Linked DNA regions of Homo sapiens. The protein of the gene in region 1 purifies or fractionates together with the protein of each later gene. This does not show direct contact. Each region holds a gene or a part of one and is shown on either strand. Other genes may lie near its edges.

What was found.
Region 2: the proteins of KCNA4 (region 1) and UTRN purify together in Homo sapiens (affinity purification with mass spectrometry; one large-scale study listed by BioGRID and IntAct). This does not show direct contact.
Region 3: the proteins of KCNA4 (region 1) and CSNK1G3 purify together in Homo sapiens (affinity purification with mass spectrometry; one large-scale study listed by BioGRID and IntAct). This does not show direct contact.

What each region holds. Positions count from the first base shown.
Region 1 is NC_000011.10:30,009,108-30,011,670, forward strand, and holds the end of KCNA4 (potassium voltage-gated channel subfamily A member 4), read right to left. Parts: coding exon 1,610-2,563; 3' UTR 623-1,609; downstream 1-622. UniProt on the Homo sapiens protein: Voltage-gated potassium channel that mediates transmembrane potassium transport in excitable membranes. Forms tetrameric potassium-selective channels through which potassium ions pass in accordance with their electrochemical gradient.
Region 2 is NC_000006.12:144,459,772-144,463,433, forward strand, and holds part of UTRN (utrophin), read left to right. Parts: intron 1-1,425; coding exon 1,426-1,571; intron 1,572-2,882; coding exon 2,883-3,095; intron 3,096-3,662.
Region 3 is NC_000005.10:123,588,531-123,592,192, forward strand, and holds part of CSNK1G3 (casein kinase I isoform gamma-3), read left to right. Parts: intron 1-1,879; coding exon 1,880-2,028; intron 2,029-2,788; coding exon 2,789-2,884; intron 2,885-3,662. UniProt on the Homo sapiens protein: Serine/threonine-protein kinase. Casein kinases are operationally defined by their preferential utilization of acidic proteins such as caseins as substrates. It can phosphorylate a large number of proteins. Participates in Wnt signaling.

The DNA.
Region 1 (2,563 bases):
CAGTTTGTTTGTTTGTAGCTCACAGTTACCAGAGTTCACTATGTGCCGAAATAGTGTATGCAGTGTTGTTTGTTTTGTTTTGTTCCCCCGCCCCCAACCAGAGCTCAAGACAATCATTTTATAAAGAACAGAAGTTAAATAAACATTGTAGAATAAGGCCTCTTATGCATTCTGAGTTTTCTAACCTATACCTCATGATTTCATAGTGCAAGGCTGATCGCTAGTTGTTATCTCACATTCTAGAATGCTTTGTCATGACTTAAATGCAGTTATATGTGTCATAAATTCCTTTAATAAAGATAATAATGATGGTGATGTTGAAACCAAATGTTTGACACAATTCTTCCTTATGTCCATTTTAGCAAATATAATGTTAAAATCTGAGGTTAATCCCCAAATTCTGTTCTTATATAACTGCACAAAAAAATAAACTTAATAAATCTAGCGTTTATGTTTCACATTTAATAGAAAAATTTTAAGCCATAATCACTGTAGCTGCTTGGCATCTTCTTCAAGAATTCTTTCAGTGCATGCATTAACTTTGGTTAAATTATTCTGGAGTTAAAAGGCAGAAGAATATATAAAATAGTATGATTTCAGAAGCATCATTCTAACAGACCAATTTCAAAAGATTCAGTTGCTAAATTTTACTTCATAATTCCTTTGTCAATCAGTTATTTAGATTTTAAAAGAGGAGAGAATCCTGTGATGTTATCTGCATGATCATTAGTCTCACACAATGAAAAGAAAACAATAAAATAAGACTAAAGAAATCATTCTTCCAATGATTGTCATTGAACTGTTACATTAGTAAACATTCACAGTTTGAAGTCTCTCTCAATCTCCAGCATATAAAGTAGTGCAAAGAAAAAAAAATCCAGTCCTGTTACCTGCAAACAAAACTTATTACATATTCTCCAATTTCACTTATTCTATAATGTTAGACATTTGCTGTTAAGTCTTCCCAAAATTAATAACAAAATATAATCAATTTCTAAAGGCCCTTGCAGCCTTTTTAAAAGTTAATTTCCAGTTAAAAATAAATTTTAATTAAATCCAAGATAAAATTGTGACCTATAGTCTATTAAATAATTTACTTTCTTTTTTCTCTACACAGTATTTCTTACAATTTTTAAAAAACAACTACAGAATCCAAAGACATACGATATGCTGTTAAAGCACTGATAAATGACTGCTCAGATTCATTAGTTCTTACATAGTAAATACTTCAAAATGCCAACTTTTCCCTTCACTGCACAATTACTAACATTGACAATTTACTTCACACACACACACATATACACACACACGCACACACTCTCTCTCTCCATCTTTACTGTTAACATCTTTTCCAGTTAATGTGCAAAATTCTTGCATTCTAATAAAAATATAAAGATAGATTTGCTCCTATTCCTCCCTCTTCTCCAAGATGTATCATTTATTTGATATGTAATACAAGTTTAGTAACAATTATGCCATGTATAACCATTAAATAGTGTACTACTGTATGCATTGGATCATTTGCATATTTCATTTTCATAACTGCACTCTCTATGCATAAATATATTTGGAGATGCTGAGGGGGGAGCAGTGGCAGGTGGAAAAAGATTCACACATCAGTCTCCACAGCCTTTGCATTAGAACAGTTGTTTTTATCTGTCTCACTGTCATCCCCCTTTCCCTGACACTTCTCCTCCTTTGCACACAGAGATTCCTTAACTCCTTCTTCCATCTCTAGATACTCTGACTTGTCCCCCAGGGAAGAAGAAGTAGAGCTCCGAAATTTCTTGAGCAAATTAGAGGGGAGGTATGGACAACTGACTGCATTCTGCGTTAGCTGTGTCTGTTCCTCATTTTCAGTCTCTCTGTGGTAGAAATAGTTAAAGTTAGAGACAATCACTGGCACTGGCAAAGCAATGGTTAAGACACCCGCAATGGCACACAGGGACCCGACAATCTTGCCCCCTACAGTGATGGGCTTCATGTCCCCATAGCCCACAGTTGTCATGGTCACCACAGCCCACCAAAATGCATCTGGGATGCTTTGGAAATGGGTAGTAGGTTCATCCGCCTCTGCAAAATACACAGCACTAGAAAAGAGGATGACCCCAATGAAGAGGAAGAAGATCAGAAGGCCCAGTTCCCGCATGCTGGCTCTGAGGGTGTGGCCCAGGATCTGCAGGCCTTTGGAGTGCCTGGAGAGTTTGAAGATCCGGAATACTCGGACCAGACGAATGATTCTGAGGATGGCAAAGGACATGGCCTGCTGCTGCTGACCATTGCCACCCCCCTGTTGCTGGGCCAGGTCAGTGCCCAGTGTGATGAAGTAAGGCAAAATGGAGACAATGTCAATGATGTTCATGATGTTTTTGAAGAAGAGTGCTTGGCTGGGACAAGCAAAGCAGCGAACCACAAACTCAAAGGAAAACCATACAATACAGACTGTTTCCACGATGAAGAAGGGGTCATTGAATATTGTGTGCCCTGAGTTCTCCAGATGGGGTGCTGAAGTATCATTCAACAACCCACCATGCCCGCCAGCACTCAGTGCCATGACGAGATC
Region 2 (3,662 bases), on another chromosome or scaffold:
TAGAGCCAGGGTCTAGCTATGTTGCCCACGCTGGTCTAGAACTCCTGGGCTCAAGTGATCTTCCCACCTCAGCCTCCCAAAATAACAGGTGTAAGCCATTATAACAGGTGATATAACAGCCTCCCAAAATAACAGGTGTTAGGCAAAATAACAGATGTTAGCCTCCCAAAATACCAGGGATAACAGGTGTCAGCCATTGTACCTGACCTGGATATAATGATTTTTAAAGATTTTTTTTTTTTTTTTTTTTGAGAAACAGGTGCAATTTCTTCCTTTGGTTGAGGAGGCCACTTAATATCATTGCTAGGAGGATCAAAATGAATGATCCCTTACTTCTGTTTCCTCAAAATAGTTAAAGTTTTGGCAGTCTCATACTGTCTTTTAAAAGAAATCATATTCCACTGTCAGATTCAGAAAAATTTTAGAGTTCTTACTTTTGGAATACACTTGGTTTTGGAAGGTTCACTGTTAAAGATTTTGAAAGCTCATCCCTCCTACGTTACACTATTTACTTCCTAGCTGCCATTTGAGTTAGGAACTGTGTTGCATTGTGCATTATTTTGTGAAATGCATTGAGCATTGTGTGAAATGCTCCACATGTAACCCAGCCTAACTTCAGCAATTGTAGATTGTGTGATGACTGGAAGTGTCTGTATGTGTGCATGCTAGGCAAATGTGTCGTATTGCCTTTCTTCTGAAAGTGCATCTGGACAGCATGTCTTTGTTCCTTGAATTCAGTTATGTGAAATATGTCTTTGAGGGTACCTCTTTCTCCACTTATTGGTACAAGCTGTGCTTTCACTTTTGACAAGGATCAGTAGGCAGTTTAACTTTTGCTGCTAGTTGGTTTCACCTCTTTGTGCTTCAAGAGAACTCACTTCCTTTCCACGCAAGTGTTACTTCTGTGATATTTTTACATTAGTGACTGAGGTAGACACTGTTCCAGCTGGCTGTTCAGTCATTATTTCTCAGGGTACCTGGGCAGCATGGTGGCAGTATTTCCATATAATCTCCTCCACTCTGGACCTGGGTTTGTCTACACGGTGGAGCTTACAGCAAGACTGGTTGAAGGGATCTTTGTTTTCTTTTATTCTTTGTGTAGCTGTTAAGGAAGAGGAGATTATATGGAACAAAAGGGACATTGTTGTTCCATCTTCAGAGAGACATTTCATCATGAAGAAATGAAGAAAAATTATAGTGGGTTAGTTAATATTTCAAACGTCAACATCCGCAGGAATGAAGTCACTGTCTGACTCTCAGAAATGCCAATGGAATGATCTATGTTGTTAATTAACAGAGACCCTTTTACATTTTAATCATGGGGTCTCCTTTGCCATGTATTGGAATTCATTTAGGATAATGGTCTATGTAATAATATTGGTTCCTAATATGATTTTTTCAAACTAAATATTTTTAAATAAACAGAACTGAAGGGCCAACCTGGACATGCATATCTGGAAACATTGAAAACACTGAAAGATGTGCTAAATGATTCAGAAAATAAGGCCCAGGTGTCTCTGAATGTCCTTAATGATCTTGCCAAGGTGGAGAAGGCCCTGCAAGAAAAAAAGGTAACATATATCTTCCATGTTAGAACTCTAGCGCTTCTTCTAATATCTCCTCTTACATATTTTGAAATGTTTTTTCAGAGATTAAAAAAAAAGTTGGTCAGTTTTGTTCATCATTGGTGCAAAAATGTGTTTATGATTTGAGGGTTAGTTTGACCTCACATAAAAGAAAGTACAGTTATTAAAAATTTTTTCATAGAAGAAAAGCATATTTTCTCCTTCTGCTGTGATTAGCTTAAAATTCTCAACCTGTTCATAAAATCTGCTAAAATATCTTTATGAAATGAGGACTATCAGTTGACGTGTTGATGTATACTTTTTTCTGCATCGAATAGGAATGTTTCCGAGGTCATTTAGTTGAGTAGCCTTATGGCTCTGTGCTATTAGATGAAAAGGAGAGCAGCCATTGAGCACTGCACACTTGGCCCACACTGGGTTTGCTGTTCCCTTGGTTTTTAGGGTTGAGAATACACTGTATTGCCCACACACAACTCATGAAGAAAAAGCTTTAATTTTTATGATTATGCCTATTTTTTTCATGAGTTTTTCATGTTTTGTTTTGTTTTGTTTTTTGATTTCCAACTTTTATTTTAAGTTCAGGGGTACTTGTGCAGGATGTGCAGGTTTGTTAAATGGGTAAACGTGTGTCATGGTAGTTTGCTGCACTACGTATTAAGCCCAGCATCCATTAGCTCTTCTTCCTGATGCTTTCCCTCCCACCATGCCCCACCCTCCAACAGACCCCAGTGTGTGTTTTTCCCCACCATGTGTCCGTATGTTCTCATTATTCAGCTCCCACTTATAAGTGAGAATATGCGGTATTTTTTTTTGTTGTTTCTGAATTAGTTTGCCGAGGATAATGGCTTCCAGCTCCATCCATATACCTGCAAAGGACATGATCTTGTTCCTTTTTATGGCTGCATAGTATTCCATGGTTGATATGTACCACATTTTCTTTAAGTAGTCTATCATTGATGGGCATTTGGGTTGATTCCTTGTCCTTGCTATTGTGAATTGTGCTGCAATGAACATAGTGTGCATATATCTTTATAACAGAATGATTTGTATTCCTTTGGGTATATACCCAGTGAGATTGCTGGGTCAAATGGCATTTCTGGTTTTAGGTCTTTGAGGAATCACCACACTGTCTTCCACAGTGGTTGAACTAATTCACACTCCCACCCACTGTTCTTTTTAGATAAAAATGCTTTCTAATGCATTTTAAAGTGACTTTTGACTTTATATAGCCCATTTTACTATATCTGTGCAGACACATTTTTGTGCATATTTTTAATCTTTTAAAACTTTTTCCAGACCCTTGATGAAATCCTTGAGAATCAGAAACCTGCATTACATAAACTTGCAGAAGAAACAAAGGCTCTGGAGAAAAATGTTCATCCTGATGTAGAAAAATTATATAAGCAAGAATTTGATGATGTGCAAGGAAAGTGGAACAAGCTAAAGGTCTTGGTTTCCAAAGATCTACATTTGCTTGAGGAAATTGCTCTCACACTCAGAGCTTTTGAGGTAAATCCAGAGGCCACTGGGAGTTTAAGTTTATTACGGGGTAAATAGTAATTATCTTATAAGATTCACGTATTTATTATTTAAATATTTTACATTCTTTCTAGATCCCCATTTATTATGTATTTAAGTTGGGACTTATCAAAGATGTACTTTTAATGTGCTAGAGAGCACATTTATTTCCTTTTGCCTGGAAGCAAAGTCAAAAGTAGAGTAAACTGGACCTTGAAGATAAGAGAAAATTGCTTAAAAATGGTCAAAATAATGTTTCAGGCATGGAGGGCCTGTGTGAAATACAGACTGTTGATTAGATTATAGTAGTAACTTGGTTGGGGTGGTAGAAATAGCCCAGGTAGTAGTAAATTGCTGAATACATGAAACTACTTTTTGCAGGTTTTTGACATTTGAAGTCAAAAGTCAGAGATAGGCCATTGACAGTGTCAGAGTGGGAAGGCAAATCGTTCCAGGGACATGAAAATTCAGAAACAGGATCCTTCACTACACCTGAAAATGTTGACAGATGCAGCAGTGATAAAGTTTAAGAGGAAAGGATAAATGTGAGGATGTATA
Region 3 (3,662 bases), on another chromosome or scaffold:
TGATACATTATATACAGAAAACTAGAAATGCTAATTTTTATTGCTTAAGTTTATACATATTTTTTTCTATGCTTAAAAAAAAAAGAGCTAAAAATATGATTTAAAGGTTGTCAGCATTTGATGCCGAACCCACAGGGACACTTTGTGTATTTGCTTTGCAAATGGTATTAATAGAAGAAAATCCTGTCTGTTAATAGTGTTGATCATTACCAGCTGAAGTAATATTTTCTTTAGTGATATACTTTTAATGAGTTAAAATTTTTGCTAAGAAATGCCAGTTACAAAGTTTTGGTATTCAGTGTTAGTCATTTGGGTCTCAATGTCAAGTTCAAAGGAGGTATGTGAAGTATGATTTGGTTTAGTTTTCAAATTAAACTTAAATTAAGTAAGGCCAGTAAAACCTTACTGACCTCACTAGTTTGGGGCTAATTTTATATTGGGGAGCTGTATGCATTTATGAAAATAATTTTGCTTTCAAGTAGATTTATGGCAACTCAAATTAAGCCAAAAAAAATTTACTTAAGATTTCTACATCAATTAAGGAATAAGAATAACTTGTTAGTATATTAAGATAATGACTGTGATTTATTTGTGCAGCCACATTAAGTGAAAAGAGAGCTAAATTTGAAGATAAAATACGGAATTCCTATCTCACTTTAGTATTCCGTAGTTCTCCTGTATAATGCTGGCGTTATTAATGTAATAATAATATTATCAACATAACAAAAGTAGCTCTTTCTCAAGCTTGTTTATATTATTCATTGACAGCAAACTTTAATTATATATTTTCCTTTCTTGCTATAATATCTAGAAGTAGATTTTTTAAAATGTCGGTTAATAGTACTAGCAGTTTAGTGTAGGCAGATAGGGTAGTTGTCATTAAGGAAGCCTATATAAAGGTGGGAAAAATGGGGTTGCCAAATCAAATTAGCCAGGTATTTAGCTAGAAAGTGGAATAGTGGGAGAGTCACCACCTAAAGAAGGTCACTGCACACCACTTTTGTTGCCTCATTGTGCTGGGTGTGATCTTTTTCCTGTTGGCTGGGGCTGCCTGTGAATGCTAGGTGTAACTTACCATCTCTTACTGTAGTGATTTTCTGTGCCCTGATGGTGAAATGCCCTGCTTTACTAATTGCTCACCATTTTGCCCATTGTTTTATATTTATATATTTGTTTGTCTGTTTGTTTGTTTTTGCATGTATTAGATACATGTATCTAATACATTTTGGAATTATAATAGCATGCAGAGATTTGTATATCGCCAAATAATTGTTAAATATATGACCAGAAATTAAGAGAAGACTTACACTGTCCTCTTGTGTTATGTTTTTGAGATTTGTTTTAGCTTTCCTTTGTTAGCTTAATTGGTTAGAATACTGCTCAAAGCCAAGGTTAGGAATTTGAATTCTCTATTAGTTAGTTGGTTTATGTCACTGATTCTAAAGGAAATCCAGCAAGCCAATACAGATGCTTTCATATAAATCAGTTCTCACCGGTATTTTAAATAAAATTTTAAATTTATAAACTGAATATGATGCTTTGTGATTAATCATGCATTATTAAACTGCTTATTCAACTTCTCATACTACCAAATATTAAAAATAATCTTATAAAAATGAAAATTTTAGCTTTTCCTAATGAAATGAAGCAAAAATAGTGGTTGTTAAACTAAACCTCCCATTTTTCTTGTGTCTCTATTCCCTTCCTTCTTTTCCTCTTTTTTATTTTGTTGTAATTAAACTCAGAAAAATTTAAATTGCAATGTAATTTTGTTACTTTTCAAGTGTTTTTATATAATACAATGTGCTTTTAGATACTTAATTTTATTACTGAGTATTAAAGAAAAGTATAGTCCAAATAATTTTTATATTATTTCTAGAAGAAATGGCAACATATCTTCGTTATGTAAGAAGGCTAGATTTTTTTGAAAAACCAGACTATGACTACTTAAGAAAGCTTTTTACTGACTTGTTTGATCGAAAAGGATATATGTTTGATTATGAATATGACTGGATTGGTAAACAGTTGGTGAGTATTCTATATAATAATATATTACTTACAGTATCTGTTGCCTTTTTAATAGTACAATATCTTCAATTGAAAAGAGTTGAGAACAAATAGTTGTTTTAAAGGATTCATTTTATTGTTTTTTAAGGGACATTTCTGCAGGTAGTGCCGTACTAGTGTTCTTTGAGTTTTTCAGAAGCCCTACATCTGGATTCTTTGCCTTTTAGCATGAAGAGTTACTTTTAACTTTTCATCCTGATTTAGTTCTTAATGTCAAATATACTCTTTTTTGTGTAATATTCTCATGATTAATTTAATACTTCAATCCCTTGATGAAAATTAAAATTTGTATGAGTCTCTTCAAGTCAAAATATTGGAAATAAGTAATTTTATTAGTTTTTTTATTCTTTTAATTTTCTTAAAAGTTTATTCTATGTATACATTTGCTTTGGAAATGAGAGGCATAAACATATACATTTTTATCATGTTGATATGAAAATGTAGCCTAAAAGTAATGGCAGCATTAAGTGTTCTGTAGATGTAAAAATAAGTACTTTATAAAGAATTTGAATATTTTAAAAACACTTTAAAAAGTAGGTATATTCTTTTTGCTTTACCTTCTTAGCTTTAACAACATATTTTGATAATGATGCCTTTACTTAAAGCCTTAGTTTATTTAACAGTCTTTTGTTTTTTTCCTTAATTCTTTTAAGCAGCTAAATGATTTTAAATAAGAATTTTAAAATGGAATGTATTGATACCAATTGTTATTGTATTGTAGCCTACTCCAGTGGGTGCAGTTCAGCAAGATCCTGCTCTGTCATCAAACAGAGAAGCACATCAACACAGAGATAAGATGCAACAATCCAAAAACCAGGTTTGCTGCCCTTTAGATATGAAATACCTTCCTTTCATGATTGAAACATACACTTTTTTCTTCAATAGATAAAACAGACTGAAGGATTGAAAATACATATTTTTAATAGATAATCTATTTTCTCTTAATTTCACTGTTTATTAGTTTAATAATAGCATTAAAATGTTTAATCATAAATCCTTAATTAATGGTACAAATTAGTGTAAACTTTTAGGAATATGTGATATTCTGTTAGAATGGAAGTATTTGGATACCCTATTAGAATGAATTGTAATAACACTTGGACTTTCTAACTGTAGTTTAGTTCAATAAATTATTTATTGAATTTCTGCTATTGTAAAGCTACTGTTCTACACATTATAGAAATTCAGAAGTAAAGAAGACTGTATAACCTTTAAGAATGATTTTGTCACCAGTGTCTAAAAGCAGTGTTGTAGCTAAGAGTTCACTCAATTCTTTAGAATCAGGCATACATGGATATGGCTTGACCCTGGGCAAATAAGTTAATCTGTCAAAGCCTCAGTTTCCTCATCTATAAAATGGAAATAATGCATGTTAATTTAGAGCATACAGTAAGCTTTGAATCAAAACTCTTGTGTCTGCTGTTACTGTTATTATTATTACAATAAATACAGAAATAGCTATATTTAAAAAGAGAATAAGCTATATTACATGAAACACTAATAAAGTAGCATGGAGATCATATGTGGGGCTCTATGAAGATTTTATGGAAAAGGTAGCTTTTGACATGAACCTAAAGAATGAATGGAGTTTTTAA